Linked DNA regions of Homo sapiens: regions 2, 3 and 4 are each reported to be linked to region 1. Evidence: microRNA targets listed by miRTarBase, many of them from high-throughput screens and not tested one by one. Region 1 holds a microRNA gene; each other region holds the end of a gene's coding sequence.
What was found. The annotated mature microRNA hsa-miR-6857-3p reads UGACUGAGCUUCUCCCCACAG and lies in region 1 at 2,102-2,122, shown strand. An mRNA with a match to its seed (bases 2 to 7 or 8) in the 3' UTR can be bound and repressed. Matches are read on the target gene's strand: a 7mer-m8 pairs with bases 2 to 8, a 7mer-A1 pairs with bases 2 to 7 and ends in A, and an 8mer does both.

Region 1 (5,152 bases):
CACTTCACTTCTGACACCAGAAGTGTGGGGGTTTTTCCTCACACACCAAGCAATTCTCCAGCAGACACCAGCTGGGTGACCTATAATTCACTTCAGCTCTGACACTATTTATCTGGAGATAGCATCAGATCCTGTGGGTTAGGGGCTCAGTCCAAGACTTCAGGTGCCAATTGCAAGTCTCAGGTTGTGACTTGTGGTTCTGACTGACCTGCTATAAATTACAGTTCCCGAGAATCCCTCCCTGGGTTCGATTAATTTACTAGTGCAGCTCACAGAACTCAGGAAAATGTTTTACTTATGTTTACCCATTTATTATGAAGGATATTACAAAGGATACAGAGAACAGCCAGATGGATGCATAAGGCAAGGTATGGGAGAAGAGATGTGAAGCTTCCATGCCCAATCTGGGCAAGCCACCCTCCAGGTACCCCCACACAGGGGCTTCATTATGTAGTCATGATTGATCAGATCATCAGCCATCGGTGATCAGTTCAACCTTCAGCCCCTCTCCCCTCCTGAAGGTTGTAGGGGTGGAGCTAAGAGTCCCAAATCTAATCCTGCCTTGGTCTTTCTGGTAACCAGCCCCTATCCAGAAGCTATCTATGGGCCTCCAGCCATAATCATCTCATTAACATACAAAAGACACTGCTCATTCCTGAGATTCTAAGGGTTTTAGGAGTTGTGTGTCAGGAACTCACGGGTAGAAGACTAAATATATATTTCATAAAACCACAGTCCACTTTGATCTTCAAACACAGATCCCTTACATCAGAACAATCATGTAATAAATAGAAAGATGCTGGGAGCGGTAGCTCACGCCTGTAATCCTCGCACTTTGGGAGGCCGAGGCGGGCAGATCATCGGAGGTCAGGGGTTTGAGATCAGCCTGGCCAACATGGTGAAACCCCGTCTCTACTAAAAATACAAAAATTAGCCGGGCATGGTGGCGGGCACCTGTAATCCCAGCTACTCGGGAGGCTAAGGCAGGAGAATCACTTGAACCTGGGAGGTGGAGGTTGCAGTGAGCCAAGATTGCGCCACTGCACTTCAGCGTGGGCAACAGAGTGAGACTCCGTCTCCAAAAAAGAGTAGAAAGATACTGGCACATTACTAGAATCCCACTGAGTCATTAATTAATAATTAGTCTAGTCCATGATCATGTCATGTAAAAATGTCTCCTAGGGTGAGGCCATTCAGGTTTGCAGGCTTCTATTCAATCTTGTTAGGTTCCAAAACCAGGAGTGTTCTCGGCAAACATAGCTTCATACTTTCAGGCATCTGGGATAATTGTGCTAAGAGACAATATCATCTCTTGCTCTGAACCTCTTTTGAGGTGTTAATGTAATACTGAGTTTCCCTCATTACATAACTCATTTATTCATTTCTTTACCTCCCTTCTCTTACCCAAACTTTTCCACCTTTCAAAGGGACGTTAGGATTGGCCACTGTGCTGATCTGGAGTGCACACAGCAAGCTAGTCTGCAATTGCCTCCTCCTCAGTCCATACAGTCTCATTCAGATAGGGTAGGGTTGCATGGGTACAGAACTAGTGGGCTGTCTTTTTTGTTTGTTTTGAGACAGGGTCTCATTATGTTGCCCAGGCTGGTCTTGAACTCCTGGGCTTAAGCTGTCCTCCCATTGCAACCTCCCAAGTAGCTAGGATTACAAACACACACTACCATGCTTGGTATTGGGTTATCTTAACCACTAGGCAATACAGTTGCATTCACTTCCTGATATAGATTCTAGTCTGTCCCCCTTTCCATACTGGGAATTAGGATTCCTGAGCCAGCTTCCAAAAGCTTCATACTTCAGTTTTCCCTTCCTACTTTACTCAGTACGGCCGCCTCATTGACCTATGCCAGCCCACACAAAAGAAGTATCAGATTGCTGTAACCAAGGTTTTGGGCAAGAACATGGATGCCATTATTGTGGACTCGGAGAAGACAGGCCGGGACTGTATTCAGTATATCAAGGAGCAGCGTGGGGAGCCTGAGACCTTCTTGCCTCTTGACTACCTGGAGGTGAGGCTTGTTGGGGATTGGGTCAGGCCAGTGTTCAAGGGCCCCTCCTCTAGTACTCCCTGTTTGTGTTCTGCCACTGACTGAGCTTCTCCCCACAGGTGAAGCCTACAGATGAGAAACTCCGGGAGCTGAAGGGGGCCAAGCTAGTGATTGATGTGATTCGCTATGAGCCACCTCATATCAAAAAGGCCCTGCAGTATGCTTGTGGCAATGCCCTTGTCTGTGACAACGTGGAAGATGCCCGCCGCATTGCCTTTGGAGGCCACCAGCGCCACAAGGTGTGGATTCCCTTGCCCAGGCTGGAGCTGGACAGGCTCAGTACTGGAGATTCATTTGTTCAGCTTCTCCCCCTCTTCTCTCTTCCCCCTGCTGTGTGTAGACAGTGGCACTGGATGGAACCCTATTCCAGAAGTCAGGAGTGATCTCTGGTGGGGCCAGTGACCTGAAGGCCAAGGCACGGCGCTGGGATGAGAAAGCAGTAGACAAGTTGAAAGAGAAGAAGGAGCGCTTGACAGAGGAGCTGAAAGTAAGCCACAGGCAGTGCTGTTTTTAGCAGTGGGAGTCCTAAGCCTAGGTCAGCCACCACCTTACCACCTAGCCCTTCTTTCTTGTTCCCTTCAGGAGCAGATGAAGGCAAAACGGAAAGAGGCAGAGCTGCGTCAGGTGCAGTCTCAGGCCCATGGACTGCAGATGCGGCTCAAGTACTCCCAGAGTGACCTAGAACAGACCAAGACACGACATCTAGCCCTGAATCTGCAGGTGGGGCCTGGCCTTCAGCCCTGTTCTCCAAAGGCCATCCACACATTCCTGGCCTAGGTTTCTCTGGGGGTGGGGAACTTGTTTCACTTCCCCGTCTCCTCCCAGCCTGCCGCAGGGAGTCAGGTATAGCATAGAGTCAGACAGCCAGGGGTTCAGAGCTTGGCTCTGCCTTGAGTTTGACATTAGGCAAGTATTTTCACCTTTCAGTGTCAACCTTCACATCTTTATCTGTGAAATGCGAGTTAAGATGATACCTACTCGGCCGGGCACGGTGGATCACCTGTGGATCACCTGAGGTCAGGAGTTGGAGACCAGCCTGGCCAAACCTGTCTCTACTACAAATACAAAAAATTAGCTGGGCGTGGTGGCAGGCGCCTGTAATCCCAGCTACTTGGGAGGCTGAGGCAGGAGAATTGCTTGAACCCGGGAGGTGGAGGTTGCAGTGAGCCGAGATCATGCCATTGTACTCCAGCCTGGGTGACAGAGCGAGACTCTGTCTCAAAATAAATAAATGATACCTACTTTATAGGGTCATTATTGAATGAGTTAACATGTAAAGTGCTTAAGACTACCATGTGTTCAGTTTATGTTATGTGCTATTGTTAGCATAATTTATTCATTCAACAAATTTGAATTTTTGAAAGTGAGCTATGGGCATTTCAGTCCCTGCTTGTGGTAGTGGGCGGGGCGGGGGGGGACTGTTCTAGGTATATTAATGTGTTTTGTTTTTTTTACTGACTACTTCCCCAGACCGCCCTAGAGGTTTTATATGTAGTGTGTGTATTTATATATCTTTTTCTAAACTCAAAAAATCTAAACTGAATTCTGAAACAACTCTGCCCCCAGGGGTTGTAGATCAAAGACTGGGACCTATACCTAATGATGTTTACTGTGTCCCCAGCCCTGTGGATTGAAGCTGGCTGAACTGGATGCCAGGGAAGAAGCCATGTGATGGCTTCAGTGCAACATCATGGAGGCTTGACTAGGGCAGTAGTGCTAAGCCAGGTTCTCTCAGTTGTGGAGAGCTAGCCCTTCCTGACTGTGGGGCCAATGCAGTCAAGGTAGCTTTTTCTCCAAGGAGCCTGGTCTGCTTTGTCCTCTCAACCCATTGCCTGTAGGAAAAATCCAAGCTGGAGAGTGAGCTAGCCAACTTTGGGCCTCGCATTAATGATATCAAGAGGATCATTCAGAGCCGAGAGAGGGAAATGAAAGACTTGAAGGAGAAGATGAACCAGGTTGGTAGGGTGTGGGCCATGCCAGCGTGTGTGTCAGGGCAGGACTGGGACTGGAAGCAGGACAGACTAAAAGGGCCGATGCCCTCCCTGGCTTCTCTTCTCAGGTAGAGGATGAGGTGTTTGAAGAGTTTTGTCGGGAGATTGGTGTGCGCAACATCCGGGAGTTTGAGGAAGAAAAGGTGAAACGGCAGAATGAAATCGCCAAGAAGCGGTAGGTGGGAGGATTGGTAGAAGAGATTGGCATGCCCTTGAGCCTCTAGCTTGACATCCTTGGAAAACCAGATGCTGTCATAGGCAAGGGTCAGCTCTTAGAACTATGTGAGTTTATGTAGCTAGGCCTTAAAGAACAGAAATCAGGAGGGCAGTATGGCATAGTTATAGTGGTTAAGAGTGCCAACTCTAAACTTGATTTTCTGGATTCCTGGATTACAACCCCAGCTCCACAACTCGTTATCTTTGGCAGTGACTTGACTTCTGTAAGCTGCAATATCTGCAAAATGGTATAATGATACCTATCTCATGGCATTGTTGGGAGGATTAGGTGAAATAATTTTTTTTTTTTAAGATTACCTGTTTTACCTTTTTTTTTTTTTTTTTTTTTTTTTGACACAGGATCTCACTCTGTTTCCGAGACTGGAGTGCAGTGTCAATCTTGACCTTCCCAGGCTCAGGTGGTCCTCCCACCTCAGCCTCCTGAGTAGCTAGGACTACAGATGTTTGCCACCACGCCCGGCTAATTTTTCTTTTTTTGTTTTTTGTTGTTGTTGTTATTGTAGAGATGGGGTTTTGCCACATTGCCCAGGCTCGTCTTGATCTCCTGGGCTCAAGTGATCCTCCTGCCTCAGCCTCCCAAAGTGCTAGGATTATAGGTGTGAGCCATATTGCCGGCCCTTTTTTTTTTTTTTTTTGAGACAGAGTCTTGCTCTGTCGCCCAGGCTGGAGTGCAGTGGCATGATCTCGGCTCACTGCATTCTCCACCTTCCGGGCTCCCGTGTTCATGCAATTCTCCTGCCTTAGCCTCCTGAGTAGCTGGGACTATAAGTGCACGCCACCATGCCCGGCTAATTTTTCTTATTAGTAGAGATGGGGTTTCACCATGCTGGCCAGACTGATCTCGAACTCCTGACCTCGTGA
Region 2 (5,152 bases), not on the chromosome of region 1:
AATTCATTTATCATGTGTTTATGGAAGATCTATAATGTATGTGGCAGACACTGAGGGCAGCCCTGGGAATGCGGAGATGAACAGGACAGAATAAGAAGTCTAGAGGGGAAAACAGAGATCAAATAATTACGAATAGGATAAGAGTCTCAAAGGAGAAGAATAGGGGGCCGGGCGCGATGGCTCATGCCTGTAATCCAAGCACTTTGGGAGGCCGAGGCAGGTGGATCACCTGAGATCAAGAGTTTGAGACCAGCCTGACCAACATGGTGAAACCCTGTCTCTACTAAAAATACAAAATTAGTCGGGCATGGTGGCGCATGCTTGCAATCTCAGCTACTTGGGAGGCTAAGGCAGGAGAATTGCTTGAACCCAGGAGGTGGAGGTTGCAGTGAGCCGAGATTGCACCATTGCACTCCAACCTGAGCAACAAGAGTGAAACCCCATCTCAAAAAACAAGAAACAAAAACAAAAAAAAACCCAACAACAACAAGAAAAACAAAAGGGGGAATGATAGGGGTATTTAATAGGAAAGCTGACCCAAACTGGAGTGGGGGAAGCATGGAAGACACCCCTGATGCTGTGACTCTTAATCTGGTGTGCAAGGTGTAAGTCGAAATTATGTAGGGTGAAGAGGTAAGAGAGGTGTGTATCAGGTAGTGGCAACTGCACATGCCAAGGCCCTGAGGAAAGAGAGGAGGGTGTAAAGTAAAGAAGGATGGCTGGGCCTGAGACAACTTCAAGGAGTGAGGGTGGCAAAAGATGAGGCCAGAGAGATAGGTGGGTGCTGGATTAGGGAATGAACTAGAAGCTACATAAAGGATTGGGGGCTTTATGCAAAGGTCTCTGAGAAGCCATGGAATCATTTTAAGCACGGGCGTAACATGATCAGGTCTGTGTTTTAAAAAGATCACTCTGGCGGGGCGTGGTGGCTCACGCCTGTAATCCCAGCACTTTGGGAGGCCGAGGCGGGCGGATCACGAGGTCAGGAGATCGAGACCATCCTGGCTAACACGGTGAAACCTCGTCTCTACTAAAAATACAAAAAATTAGCCGGGCGTGGTGGCAGGCGCCTGTAGTACCAGCTACTTGGGAGGCTGAGGCAGGAGAATGGCATGAACCCAGGAGGCGGAGCTTGCAATGAGCCGAGACTGCACCACTGCAGTCCAGCTTGGGCCACAGAGCAAGACTCCATCTCAAAAAAAAAAAAAAAAAAAGATCACTCTGACTGTTGCTCAAGGAAGGCTCATGGGGTAGCAGTGGAAGCAGGGGGCACATTTTGGAGGCTGATCAGATGAGGATGGCTTGAGTTGGGGAAGCACCAGTGAAGATGGAGAAGCTGGAGGTGTTTGTGATCTATTTCCCAGGGGTGTTGCAGACAGGACCTGTTGATGGGTTATGTGAAGGGTGGGTGGTCAGGGAAGGAAGGCATCTTTGAGCAGAGACCTGGGGGCGTTGAGGGAGTGAACCATGTGGGTATGATGTGTGGGGCAAATGTTTTCAAGGGGAGGGCACAGCAAGTGTGAAAAAGAAAGAGGGGATGTGTTAGTCCATTTTCGGCTGCTATGAAGGAATACCTGAGGCTGGGGAATTAATAAAGAAAACAGGTTTATTTGGTTCATGGTTATACAGGCTGTCCAAGAAACATGGCACCAGCATCTGCTTTTGGTGAGGGCTTCGGGCTACTTCCATTCATGGTGGAGGGGGAAGGAGAGTGTATTAGTCCGTTTTCATGCTGCTGATAAAGACATACCTAAGACTGGGTAATTTATAAAGAAAAAAACGTTTAGTGGACTCACAGTTCCATGTGGCTGGGGAGGCCTCACAATCAGGGTGGAAGGTGAAAGCCACGTCTTACATGGTGGCAGACAAGAGAGAATGAGAGCCAAATGAAAAGGGAAACCCTTTATAAAACCATCAGCTCTCGTGAGACGTATTCACTATCATGAGAACAGTATGGGGGAAACCACCCCCATGATTCAATTATCTCCCACCAGGGTCCTCTCATATTATGGGAGCTACAATTCAAGATGAGATTTGGGTAGGGACACAGCCAAACCATATTAGAGAGCCAGCATTTCACATGAGAGGGAGCAAAAGAGAGGGGAAGTGTTCTATGCCCTTTTAAACAATCAACTGTCCTGTGAATTAATAGAGGTGGGACTGAGAGCCTGAATAGAGGGGGTTTAAAGAGACTAGGTTGGAACAAGATGCCAGCCAGAAGCTAAGGGGACAGTGTCCAGGCTGAGGAGCAGGGCTGGCAATCCAAGCAGGGTCTCTGAACCACAGCCAAGAGATCTGGGGAGCAGAGCAGAGCTTCAGACCCCAGGAGGAGAATCTGAAGTACAAAAAAGACAACTTAGAAAGAAGGAAAAGTCTAGAACATGAACCTGGAGAGCCAGATGGGGAGGAAGGCTACAGCTGGAGTGAACTCTGGTGCCAGGCTCAGGGCAGCAAGACTGATGGCAGATGCTTCCGTTGGTGGGGAGAGGACTTAGCTTACATTGTTAGGCTCAGACGGGCTGACCATGACAGGAGGGGAATGAAACCAGCCATGCAGGTCTTCCGTGCTCACAGCTGACCAGAGCGGTGGTTCTCGACCCTGACTGTACATTTCAAAAATCTGGGAAGCTTTTCAAAAAATACAGTGTTCTGCCCCCAGCCTCAAAGCATCCCTATTCATTTTTCTCCAATGGAGCTGGCCCCATTTTCAAACATCTTCCCAGATGACTGTGTTGTGCAGGCAGCGCTGAGAACTGCTGTTCTCCACTTCAGCTTATTCCTGTGTTTGGGACTGAGCCAGTGTGGGAGGCACCTTGAGATAACGGGAGCTATAGAGATAGTCAGCCCTGGCATCTGAGGGCAATGACTGCTGTAAGCACTGAAGGAATTTGTTGACTTTCCCCAGAAGAGCAATCCTCATAACACTGACCAAAATGAACATCCTGATTAATTATGCAGGTTTATAGCTCCCCAGAGGCTGCAGAAAAACATCATTTGGCACCAGAAACAAACTTTATTCTGGCAATGCAGGATAATTTTACAAACATTAGATACTGAATTGTGCATATATCTCTGGAATTTCAATGTACTACATCCATAGAATGCAGAAAAACAAGGTCAGGGCCAATTTCTCACGCTGCCACCTGGACCAAGCAGTTCCAGGAATCCTCTGGGTTCTCTCAGCCCTCTTGTTCCAGATTTCAGTGGTGTCCTGGGCAGATGTGGTTTTTGTCTGGATTTCTCTCTTTGGGGAAATGCTTCTAACCCATTATATGCAGTTTGGATGGGCTGTCAGTGACAACAGGTAACCCCACCTCTGTCTGTGGGGATGTGGTCCAGGACTAGCCAGTCCTGGCAACAGTGATTGGCTCAAGAGGTAGACATGGAATTCAAAAGAGGCCCATAAGCATTGTTTTTTAGGTTTAATATATGGATAATGGCAAAGTTCTCTCCTGAAGATATAAAGCTGGAAAATGAGTCTGGGTTTATCATTTGTCATTGTCCACACACTGTGTGGGTAAATGAAGAAGATTGCTAGAGAGAGAGGAAAACCTAGGGATGAGAGAGAGGAAGACAGAGGGGAGACTGAGAGAGAGAGAGAGAGAGAGGGGCAGAGAGAGGCAGAGAGACAGAGAAGAGAGAGAAGCAGAGAGGGGGAGACAGACAGAGAGAGAGAAGAGAGACAGAAACTGAGACAGAAAGGAGACAGGCCAGGCGTGGTGGCTCACGCCTGTAATCTCAGCATTTGGGAGGCTGAGGCCGGTGGATCACTTGAGACCAGGAGTTCGTGACCAGCCTGGCCAACATAGTGAAACCCTGTCTTTACTAAAACGCAAAAATTAGCTGGACTTGGTGGCACATGCCTATAATCCCAGCTACTCAGGAGGCTGAGGCGTGAGAATCGCTTGAACCTGGGAGGTGGGGGTTTCAGTGAGCTGAGATAGCACCACTGCACTCCAGCCTGGGCTACAGAGTGAAACTCCATCTCAAAAAAAAGAAAAAGAGAGAGAGAGAGAGAGAGAGAGAGAGAGACAGACAGAGATAGGGGAGAGAAAGAAAGAAGGGGGAAAGACAGAGACAGATGGAGGTGGGGGAGAGAGATAAGGAGAGAGGCAGAGAAGGAGAGAGAGAGTTCTGGCAATGCAATGCCTAGTTCCAGGCCTCCCGACTCTGGTACCTCAGTCTTGTGAGCTCTCCCTGCAGCCTTTAAGGGTTAAGCCCTTTGGAGCTGGGTTTGTGTCCCTGGCGACAGAAGGCATTTTGACTAGGGCAGAAGGTTTCTTGTCGACCTCATGGGAGGCCAGACGTGCGGGGTATGCACTGGAGAGTGAGGCAGGCATGGTCAAAGAGCTTGTGCGGCAGCTGTCCCTGGGATGTCCAGGTGTCCGTCTCGGGGTCGTAGCAATCGAAGGAGGCGGAGTCCTCAATGTTGCAGTCCGTGGTCAGCCGCCGCCCGCCCGTCACGTAGAGTTTGTTTCCCATCACTGTGGCCCCATGGTGCATCCTCCGGTCTTTCATGTCCGCACATTTGACAAATTTGTTGGATTGAGGGTCATAAGCAAGAATCCTCCTTGTGTAACCTGAAAACCAAATGACACATGGGCAAGCTCAGTGTTGCTCATCTGGGACTGGAGGTCAGCAGTCCTGGGACGCGTCTGACTCCTGCCACTGCGTAAGGCTGAGGCTGGGGCTCTGAACTAGCACGTGGGATGTTGAGCTAACCTGCCAAGGCCTGCTTTGTGGCAGAGTGGGGGCTGGCACGCAAATCTGCCTGACTCTGACCTTCACCCCAAGTTAAGGCAGCATATAAGCCATTCTTAGATTGGGAGCGGCCTCCTGATTCCTGTAACTTTCTCAGCCTCATTGGCCTCTTCCTCTCTCAAATGCCCACTCAAGAACTATGACAATCCTTTGGAAACTCAGAAGTGGGTTCCCCACACCAGTCCTATCTGGTAGTTACTTTTAGGATCCTCGTTTTATGGATGGACAAACTGAGGCACAGAAAGATGTTTAACTTGCTAAAAAGTATATAGCCAGTTAGTGACAGAGCCAGGATTTGAGCCCAGTTCCATCTGACCCCAATACCAGTCCTCTTAACCATGACACTATGATTTGATTACAGAGAAACAAACTATTAGTAGCTAATATTATA
Region 3 (5,152 bases), not on the chromosome of region 1:
ATTTGTATTCTGCACCAGTTACAGGAATAGATCTGCCAGGAAGTTTTGAAATTCAAGGACAGATAGGGTTAAGTCATAGCCCCAAACTACAGATTAGCCCAGCAAGGTCCTCCAAATCTTTTGCAATACACATTTGGTAATACGTGGGTCATTTAGTTCTGGCTTCCAGGCAGTTCAGCTAAAGGCTTAGGCTAGAGAATTGCAAAAGCTTATGATTTCTCACCAAGGAATGAAATGTGACGCAGTAGAGCAAACTGCAGACATTTAATACCAGATGTTAATGTAAAAATTGGAAAATTGTGACCCCCCCCCCCCACACGGTTATCTGACCCATGGCCTGCAGAATTCCATCACAAAGTCTGTAAGTCATCATTATTCCTGGATTCCTACACTATTAACTTTGTGCCTACTCTTTGTAGTGTAAAATAATAATTCTGAGTCATATAACTGAGATAATTAGATTATATCAATCTTGAGGCATTTTGTGCACACACTAACAGAGTAATTCAATTTCTTACCATAAAAATCAGAAGTAGAGCTTTTCTCATTAGTTGGATTTCCTAGTGACTTTTTAGAAATAGTTTGAGACATTTTTATTTCCTTTGCCTTCCACACCTACCTGACGTCACTAAATGCTGTAGGAAAGGAAGGAAGGAAGGGAGATTTTTCTTATTTGCACTGAAAGGTAAAAGAACATTTGAAACATATATTTCTGAACATTTTTACATTTATTTACACTTTTCCCTAAATCTGCACACTTTACATCTACACAGACACAATACAGTTTATGTAAGAATGATACACAAACTGCAAAGTGCTCTATAACTATGAAGAAAATTGTTCAAGCTCTGTTGCTTCAACTTCGGTCCCAAGGGAACAAAGGCTCAAAGAATCTCCTCTAAGCCCAGATTCAAGGTAGGGAGGACTTTTAAATGAGCTCTTCTTAACAGGACATGAGTATCTTACCTTCACATCTGGATACTTTTGTTACTCAAAATGATGAGAGAGGAAAGGAGGGTGTGGAGATACCTTCATGAATCATTAACAAGAAACAGCATTCAACTGACCCAGGTAAAATGCCACCACAGGGTTTAGCAGCTCTGTGGTGAGCTGAGAGAAAAGCCAGAGACAGCAGTGCATCAGGGGCTAGTCTAGAGAAATACAAACCAGTACAACAGCCTGAAGAGCCAGGCCCTGCCCTCAAGAGAACATCCAAGTCAGTTTCTTCTCTCTCTCTCTCTCTCTCTCTCTATATATATATATATATAGAAAATCTGTCTCTCTAACAAAGGCAATTGCAAATACACAACAGACAACACTGACAAGAACAGCTCACAGATTGGGTAAATGAGAAAAGGGCTTTAAGACCATCCTGTCCCAATTTCTCTATCAATGGACAAGGACACCAAGGCCTGGAGAAGTCAGGTGGCATGCCCCAGCTCACACAGATCAGCACCATCACTGTGACAGGAAGCCAGGGCTCCCGGCCCCCATTCTGGTAAGATTTTCTTGTTCTCACACAAGATGTGAAGGAAATTTTACTATTCAAGAGTCAAATATAATCCACTTTTTTTTTCTTTGAGGGATTACATTTATTTTTCAGAGAGTCAGATTATCTCAAAAAAACATATAACTGGAAAACTCTTTTCTCCCTCCCACCATCCTTTCCTCCATTACTTTTTCCTCTCTTGCTTTATCTGTCTTACTTTCTTCCTTCCTCTCTCTCTTTCTTTCCTTCATAAGTATATACATCTGGAGGCAGAGGAGAGAGCCAAAGATAGCAGAGCTAAGTCAGGGAAACACAATTTGCAATTACCTATAATAGCTCAAAACTTGGGCTGAGATTTTAAAAACACAAGATTATCAGCTTAAATCTAGAAAAAATAGTTTTTCTTTCCAAATAATTTGATAACATTTATGTAAAATTAAAATGTTATTATTCCCCAGTGCCCCCACCATCACTACCCACCTCTCATCACTTTTCATCTTCAGGTTCAAAATAATCCCTGGCGCTTGTAATTGAATGATCTCGCAATGGGTGTGTGAGTTTACTTGGATCTCATGGGGCCAAAGTAAGCTGATAATATGTTTCTCTCACAATCATCCACACTATTTGTTTATAAACAGCCTTATTTAATTTAAACTGGACTTGCAAAATTGGACCACTTCTAATCTTTCCTATCCCTTACACATAGGTCCAATTGTTTCATTTTATTCTTGACTCTGATTCTAAGAATGAGTACATTTTCCCCAGCATGTAAAGGAGAGAAAAAAATACCCGTGGACTAATGTAACAAAAATCTCCCCAATGAATTTCCCATAAAGAAGAGATAAAACATCAAGTACCAATAGTGCCAAAACATTTACTGAAAGTTTTCAAATCTTGCAAAAATGTTACAAAAAGTGAGCAAATGTGGTGAAACTAATGACAAATTAGACATTGAAAACCAACATCTGGTTAAGTGTAGGCAGGCATGTAAGGGAAAGACAACGTCCATAGGCAGTTACTATGGTAAAGGACTGCATTTGACTCTTTTACACATATTATTTCATTTGATCCCATTTAGGAAAGATTATCCCAGACTTGAAAATTTTGGTTTTAAAAAATTGTGACCTATAGATATCACATTAGCTCATTATCCATCAAACTCACTCAAGTGTCACCTGACTCTCTTGGGAAATGTAACTTTGTCTGACCAAGAATTTAATAGGGACCAGATTAAGGACTCTGTAGAATTAGAAGTTGATTTGTAGAAAACCATTAAGACATGATGCTTTATTTTTGCTTTCTGGTAGAGAAATGTACCTCCACGGTTATAATTTTATTTCCCTGTAGGACCCTAACCAGTTTTATATCTTTCTGGCAATTTCATTTTATCAAAGCCTTCCTCACTGACTATTTAGATTCCAGTTTTTTCATATTCTCTTCCAATTGCTCTGTTATACTGATGTTGAGTTAACTGGAACTTAACTCATCTGTTTATGAAATAATTATGTTTTTAATAATTTCAGAGTTTGTGCTTTGACAGACAATCATCAACCAACCACATGAGGTAGGTAGTATGTCCTCATTTTACAGAGGAAGAAACTGAGTCTCAGAGAAGGCACATTATCGTCCAAGTTTATAGAGGTAAGAAGTGACAGAACTGAGGTTTTCACACAAATATGCCCGAATCACTTTATGGAAAATACACTGATGATTCATATGTGGACTGAAATTTGAGCTGCAACATCTCCAAAAAAACAACCTTACCTACATATGTTTACTACATGTTTGAATTATAAACATGACAGCTGAGTATCAAAAGCAACTAATTTTAAACAATCTAAACCTGAGTTTTTAAATAGTAATTAAAACAATTATTTATTAATTTGTTTGGCTTCAATTCTGAAGCTTTAAAAATTGGAAATGTTGAAAATATTTGCCCATAGACTATGTGGAATATTATCATTAAAGTGTGAAATTCCAGTGCTTTGCTGATTCTATTAATGGTCTGGATGATGCTCAGCAAATTACTACTGAGGTTGTTAGAAAAGCCATTGAAAAGTATTTAGAATACTTAGTGGCGAGCCTCTCTCACATTTCATAAGCATGTCCTTACATGACACAGACTGAGAGCTTTTTGAATAAATTTGATCAAATTACCAGCCTATCCTGCTGCAAAGATGTTCAGTCTCCTTTGTCCCTAGACTGGTATAAAAATGAGAAACACAAGCACACTTTTGTATTCTTCAGGCTTGGAAGCCATTTGTTGTCCTGGCTGAACAGACAGGTAGATATCAAGACTAAAGAGTGACATGCAACTCAGTCTGAAAGCAACACAGTACACGCTTTAAATTTTAAAAGTATACCTTGGGAAAGGCTGATCTTACAGATACATGTTTATCTGTCAATAGGCATGCTTTTCAGCTTGGATATATACCTTTAAAATGCACCCTTTTATCCGCCTGAGGATCCATTCAGTGAATATGCAGCTTTACAAGTTTTTCTCCATAAATAAGATTCTAAAGTTCAGGTCAATTGGTATCTAGGTTGATTTAAAAAAAAAAAAAATCTGTACTTGTAACAGCGAGTGTTTTGTCCACCAAATCACAAACCAGACAGTGACCCTCTGGCCTGGTTTTCCATAGCGCACACTCCTGTTTGATGGGCACTGGCAGTTGTCTGCCGCAGATTTAAGTTAAGTGAGGCAATCTGCCTGCCCCACCTCTTGCCTCAAATCTCAAACTCTGGAGCCAGCAGAATTTCAGCTCCACCTGAAGTGAAAAGATAACTACGTGGTTTAAATTCATATTGACTCACAGTTTCACTGTTTTATCCTGGCTAAAGCTGCTCACGGTGTCTGTGGTTTTCTTACATAAATTTTCAATCCAGCTAGTGCTATTATAATGTGTCTTTTCCAGCCCTGATGTTGGGGGTGGATTTTTAGCTCGCATATTTTTTCCAGATGTGATAAGCTCTCCATAGCCTTCTTGGTGAGCAAAAGCATATCCAGACCTTCTTGAGCTTGACCTGCGGGTCCGAGGCCTTCGGCTACTTGGAGGCCTTGCCTTCTTTTGAGCCTTCTGCCACCGGCGGATCTGGAGAGAAACAGACCCAAAGTGAGATGATGCATCCAAATGATAGACTCCAGGCAGTGGCCCACTTTGTAAAGTGAAAGCCTTTTTTTTTTATAAGTAAAAACAACATTGCAAAAGGAAGTTTTAAATCTAAAAACTAAGAAATTTTCCACCCAAAAGATAACACTGGGGGGGCACTGGTCCATTTTTATCTCTATCGAGACACTATTAAGTAATTAAGAAATATCAGACAAATTTCATTATTGTCTCTCATGTATCTTCAATGCATATGAGCATACATTTGTATAGAAAGATTTTCTAACATGCACCGCCCAAAGTCAGCATAATAATTTATAATTTCATTCTCCCAAAACAGCCTTTTTCCTCTCTTTTAGAGATTCTCTGGATCCAACAGTTGTCAGTAACTGGACTAGAAGAAAATTCAGAAAATGAGTCAGAAATATTCAATTCTTGTGGTAGCTCAACGTATCATGAGACTTCCAGGGTTTTGATTTCTTAGGTTTGTATGGCCTTTCTAAATGTTCCCTATTATGTGAGTAGGTTTCCCACAACTCTTTCATTCCCCTGTAAA
Region 4 (5,152 bases), not on the chromosome of region 1:
GAAAAGGAAAGTATCTTTTATCACTAATTGGAAACTTTGTTTTCAAATATTTCTTGGATTATTTACAATACACATGGAACAGTGTGTCCACACAACCTTCACAGAAGTGTTAAGAAATTAGAATGGCAAATCCTCTTTAGAAATGTGTAAGTGCAGATAGTCACCATTTGAAATGAACACATCATGGTGGTGTGCAGTGGTGAGAAATGGTCAGTAACAATGGACATGATTTTGCAAAAATCCTTCATAAAAGGGAATTACAAAGAGATGACAATACCTTTTTTGGGATTCCTCATCCTCAGTCTCTTACTGCTTACTAAATGTGATCCTCATGTATGCATTTTAGGAGCATCAGCTTGCATAAGAAAATATTTTCATTTTAATTCATTACATAAAGAAGTATATTGGGTTGTGGCTTTGATATTTTTATGGCCGTGATAGTAATGCTGTATTTTAGATAATAGTAACATTCTATTTCCATAATTGTTTTTCCATATTAATTATACCATACCATCTCATAGGTGAACTTACTGTGGAAAAGATCTGAATGAACCATCATGCTTTAACCCAAGAAAAAAAAATTATGACTTCATGTCTCAAGTTAACATGGTACTTTCCTTGGGTAATCATTTATTATCATGGTAGGAAAACTAGATGTTCTCATGCTTTTTTAAATAATGGCTTCAATATTTCAATATGGATTTATTTCTTTCTTCAGGGCCGGTGCATAAACTTCTCCCGAGTTCCATCTCAGTAAAAGGGAAGCAGGAAGACCAAGAAGGTACGAAGATGGCACATTTTCACATAGCTGATTTTCAACCAAATGAAAAAAATCAAGTGCATTTCAGAAGCTTTTGGAAGAGCAGCTTAATTCCTCTCAGTCGGGAAATGTTTTCTCTGCCTTCTGCTTTGCTTGCACCAAACATTTCTAAACACTTGTTCTGCCATCTACATGGGAGGTGATGAAACTCAGTGGTAACTCATGATTTATGACATTGAAAATAAAGAGGAACATTGACCTGCAGACTATGGTTTGTACAAGAAAGTTTGTTTGAATGTGTAGAAGAGGAAAAAGCAACAACAGCAACAACACGAAGATGATACCAAAACAAGGACCACAAAACAACTAGCCATGATGGGAGACAGGAGTTTTTTACATGGAAACATGGCACTTGTGTTTTTATGTGGCAAGATCTTTATCCATAGGCAGAGTATGAAATTTCCCACCAGGCTAAGCAAATAAAGAAGTCCATTGCCTTATAGCTATGTCAGATCACAGAATCCTTCCAAGTGCTCTATCACAGTGTGCCTTATGGGAAGTTTCTGACTGGAAAATCTTGTCATTCTAACACTGAAAAGTGCACACGCATGACAAAATGTAGACAAGATGCCTCAAGGTATTGGTAGCAAGCAAGATTTTGCCCTTTAGTTTTCGAAGACACCTTTCTTTCATTATGCACTCGGGACAAGAAAATTAATAGAGCGTTATTCCACAGAAGGCCTCTAGCCAGAGATCTTGAGTGTAGTGCAAGGGACTCATTTTTTGCGAACTTGTCCCTGTGACTAGTAGATTCCCCCTTTTCCTGTGTTTAGGATTTAGTAGTGCATAAAGCATTAATATCCATAAACATACCTAGAAGTTTGTTTTGCTTTTAATTTAAAGGAAGCAGTAACCACAAAGCTTCCGCTCAGGGTTTTTTCTTTCTTCAAGTCTCCAAGGGCTCTTCAGCGTCACAAGCCAGCAACTCTCTTTGCATTAAAATTTCAAAGTTTAATTAATATAATTAAAAGCAACAGCAAGCAGCAGCCTGTGAAGATTTTGCTCATCTTTTTTATGCCTTTTGACATTGAATGACCTATTACTGTATGCGCATTACTTGGATTTTGAGGGGCACTCTACCTTGGTTATGATTCAGTAGAGGAAAAAGACCACCTTTCTTCAATTTACAAATTAAATCTTCTGGAGGGTCGCTATCACAAAACATTGACGATGTATGTATTATAATTTTTTAGAAAAACCACCATCGTGTCACGTCGACGATGCCAAATTATGTTAGCGTGAGCAGAAACACCGTGGGGGAGGAAGGCAGCAGCTGAAGAAAAAAGCTCAAATGATCTAGTCACTTTCGATACTGTACTTCAGATGCGAAATGGATATTCGAGTGGAAACCTGACAAAGTGCGCCTGCTTTGATGTGAACTGGTATAGACAATGACCAGTGGCTGGGTCAGTGGGATGTCTCTCTGTGAGCACAAAGGCTTATCAAATGACACTAAAAATAAGTTCAACAACCATCACATTGGAAGGGAGAAGGCGAACATTTCATGTTTGGCGGGCATGTGAGTGCACAAGATGGAAAGAGCGATTGGAGCATCCTGGTATAATTACCCCCATTGTGCTCTTAATGGAAATTTCAAAGGACGGGAGTATTCTGTTGGTTGGTGTCCAGGTTTGTGGCACTGTTCCAAGAGGCCTTACACACACACACAAATATATAATTTTCTATACATATATATCCTCTAGCTTGAAACTTTTGCTCAAGTTTATTTATGTCACTGGCTGGCTGGATCCAAAGTCATGTGTCCACACATTCATAAATAAAAATTTTACCTATGCCTGTGCTACCATTTCTTTAAGCCCACATAAAGCTAATGCCTTCTTGGGTTGAATATGCAGTTGTTATGCTTAGTTTCAGGGATGGAATTCTATTCAGTTCCAAAATGTCCCTCATGTTCACAGATGATACTATTGGCAGTAGCTGCATATGCAAGTGTAACTTGGAAGCCTGATATAGTATACCCAACCCTTTCTGCAATGAGTTATTGTATCCCTTTGTTCTGCATTTGCATCTGGAACAAGACCTAATGTGGCTTCCTTAAATGGGCACTTCATTTCTGATGAGTGCACACCAATTATTGCTATTTTAATATCATTGAGAATACTACAGAAGCTAAGGCTATGTTTCTTTGGTAACTACTTCAAATTTCTCTAGAATTATGTAGCATACTTACATTTTGCTGCATGAACAATGAAAATTAACCTCTGCCTTTAAATGGAAAAATAACTTTCTGTAGATTGTTATACAGCTACTATGAAGAGCTCTTAATGAAGAGGAAGTGGCAGTGGTCTATATGTAGACTGAAAAAATATCATTAATAAAGTTCAAAGACTGATGGAATTTCATTGCCCTTAAAGATATGAACCAGATCTGTTTTATGCTTTTCTCCAATTATACTAACTAGCAGTTGAAAAGAATTTGTTTTGAAGAGTGTTATTTTCTTACCAAAAGACCAGATCAAAAATCCCTATACTTTTCCACCAAAAAAAGATTAAAATGAAGCCATTTCTATAAATTTAATGGCACTTTATATTTTATATAGAGAAATAGCTTCTGTTTGATTTTCTGGACACCATGTCAGTCAAGATCTACTTTCTGTGTAAAAATGAATAAGTCTTGCACATAATCCATTCGTGTTGCATAAGGTTGCAAAAACAATTAAGTGGGAAATGACTCCTAACTTATGTGTCTACTCTGCCTAGAAAGAAAGTTTTGAAGGCATCTATATATATTTCATAACAATGTCTGTTCTTTATGGATTTGATCCATAAATATTTATCTATCTGAAAACTTTGATACTTGGAATGTTTTCCTTAGAGCATTTGGTGCTCCAAGAAAAAACATTTGGTGCTAAGAGTTGCAGCACTGATGCCTTTCCCTAAGTTAATTCTATTTTAAAAATTTATATTTCCTTCCCAATGAGATGCAGAGTAAAATTTGAGACCCTCCATTGACTAGGGAGCAGCATCTGTCATCTATGGTTAATTACTATTTTGACAAAAATATAGAAGGTTTAAACCCCCATGTATTTCAGATTGTTAGAGAAAGAAGTAGTTTGCTTATATTTCCCTTGAACTTTATTCTAACCATTTAAATAATAAATTATTCAATATTTGTTATAATAAATCCTTACTAGATACAAGATTTGGGTGTTTCTGTGAAGTTAACTTTATTATCTAAATATCACTAACCATTGTTTACTGCTCAGAGGCAGATACATTTGTTTAGTTTAAAGTTGAAACAAATTCTATATTGTGGATAATTAGGTGTTTAAAACATTTTGATAGACCAGCTTATATATGTTATTTTTGAAATTTAAGAAGGCAGAATGTAATTAGGTCACATTTACAAGTAGAAGGAATTATAACTTCCTACTCCATGCATATATTGTATATTGGTTAGCTTTTACTAGCATTTTCTAGCATCACATTACTTTAGAAAGTTTTTGAGAGTTTCATTACTACTGGAAAAGTTTGGTGGGTATATGTACACAGGAAAGAAATATATGCATCATTTCAATATGAAAGGAAATACATAATCTAGAAACATAGAATAACTCTTGGTACATCTGTTACATAGTTAAGGAAAGAAACAGGCAGGTGAGGCTGGAGAATGTTGTCTATTTGTAGGAAATAAAGTCAGTGCAGACGCATATTCTAGTTTAGAGTTAGATTAATATTGTGCTTAGTGAATTTCTATGACATATTTCTGAGAACACTTTAATATATTTCCACACCTACTGGAATCTAATTCAGTCGATCGGATAAAAGAAAGACTTTTTTGTTGTTGTTTTTGAAAATCCATAATGTAGCAGGTTCTGCGCTGGTTTTTTAATGTATTTTATTTTTGTGCTCTCCTGCCAAAAGAAAAGGCTGATAAGTAAGTACACAGTACAACATGTAAATTTGTATAAAAATATGCTTGTTTAGATTGCTCTACAATAACTATATTAAGGTAAATTGTGTGTGTGTGTGTGAGAGAGAGAGAGAGAGAGAGAAACAGAGGGAGAATTGACTCAATGTGTTTTCTATGAAGAGTCTTAGCTTAGGAATCAGGTAACAGAGAGGTCCTAGACCATAGACCCAGCCATCAACTAGCTTGCTGATGTTGAACAGATCAACTCTCAACCATAGACTGAAGATGGAATGAAGATATCAAAAGTTCCTTTTAGCACTGACTAGATTTTTTTTCTTTTTTTTGAAACAGAGTCTCACTCTGTCACCCAGGCTGGAGTTCAATGGCATGGTCTGGGCTGACTGTAACCTCCTCTTCCTGGGTTCAAGTGATTCTCATCCCTCAGCCTCCTGAGTAGCT

Region 2: the mRNA of KLHL38 is a reported target of hsa-miR-6857-3p. Seed matches in the 3' UTR shown: 7mer-m8 at 3,584-3,590.
Region 3: the mRNA of ATP8B4 is a reported target of hsa-miR-6857-3p. Seed matches in the 3' UTR shown: 7mer-m8 at 3,611-3,617.
Region 4: the mRNA of ANTXR2 is a reported target of hsa-miR-6857-3p. Seed matches in the 3' UTR shown: 7mer-m8 at 877-883 and 7mer-A1 at 3,416-3,422.

Annotation. Positions count from the first base shown.
Region 1 is chrX:53,402,643-53,407,794 of GRCh38, reverse strand. It overlaps MIR6857 (microRNA 6857), which reads left to right and starts at 2,030; the gene lies at 2,030-2,122. SMC1A (structural maintenance of chromosomes 1A) reads left to right here. Exons shown (of 25, transcript NM_006306.4): 10 at 1,839-2,024; 11 at 2,123-2,302; 12 at 2,404-2,550; 13 at 2,646-2,783; 14 at 3,902-4,018; 15 at 4,123-4,229.
Region 2 is chr8:123,641,449-123,646,600 of GRCh38, forward strand. KLHL38 (kelch like family member 38) reads right to left here. Exons shown (of 4, transcript NM_001081675.3): 4 at 2,994-4,580. The coding sequence ends at 4,291. Among named protein-coding and RNA genes, the nearest start is that of KLHL38, 9.8 kb to the right of the region's middle.
Region 3 is chr15:49,855,895-49,861,046 of GRCh38, forward strand. ATP8B4 (ATPase phospholipid transporting 8B4 (putative)) reads right to left here. Exons shown (of 28, transcript NM_024837.4): 28 at 2,344-4,581. The coding sequence ends at 4,300. Among named protein-coding and RNA genes, the nearest start is that of DTWD1, 240 kb to the left of the region's middle.
Region 4 is chr4:79,903,034-79,908,185 of GRCh38, reverse strand. It overlaps ANTXR2 (ANTXR cell adhesion molecule 2), which reads left to right. Exons shown (of 17, transcript NM_058172.6): 17 at 719-5,152. The coding sequence ends at 757. Among named protein-coding and RNA genes, the nearest start is that of PCAT4, 78 kb to the right of the region's middle.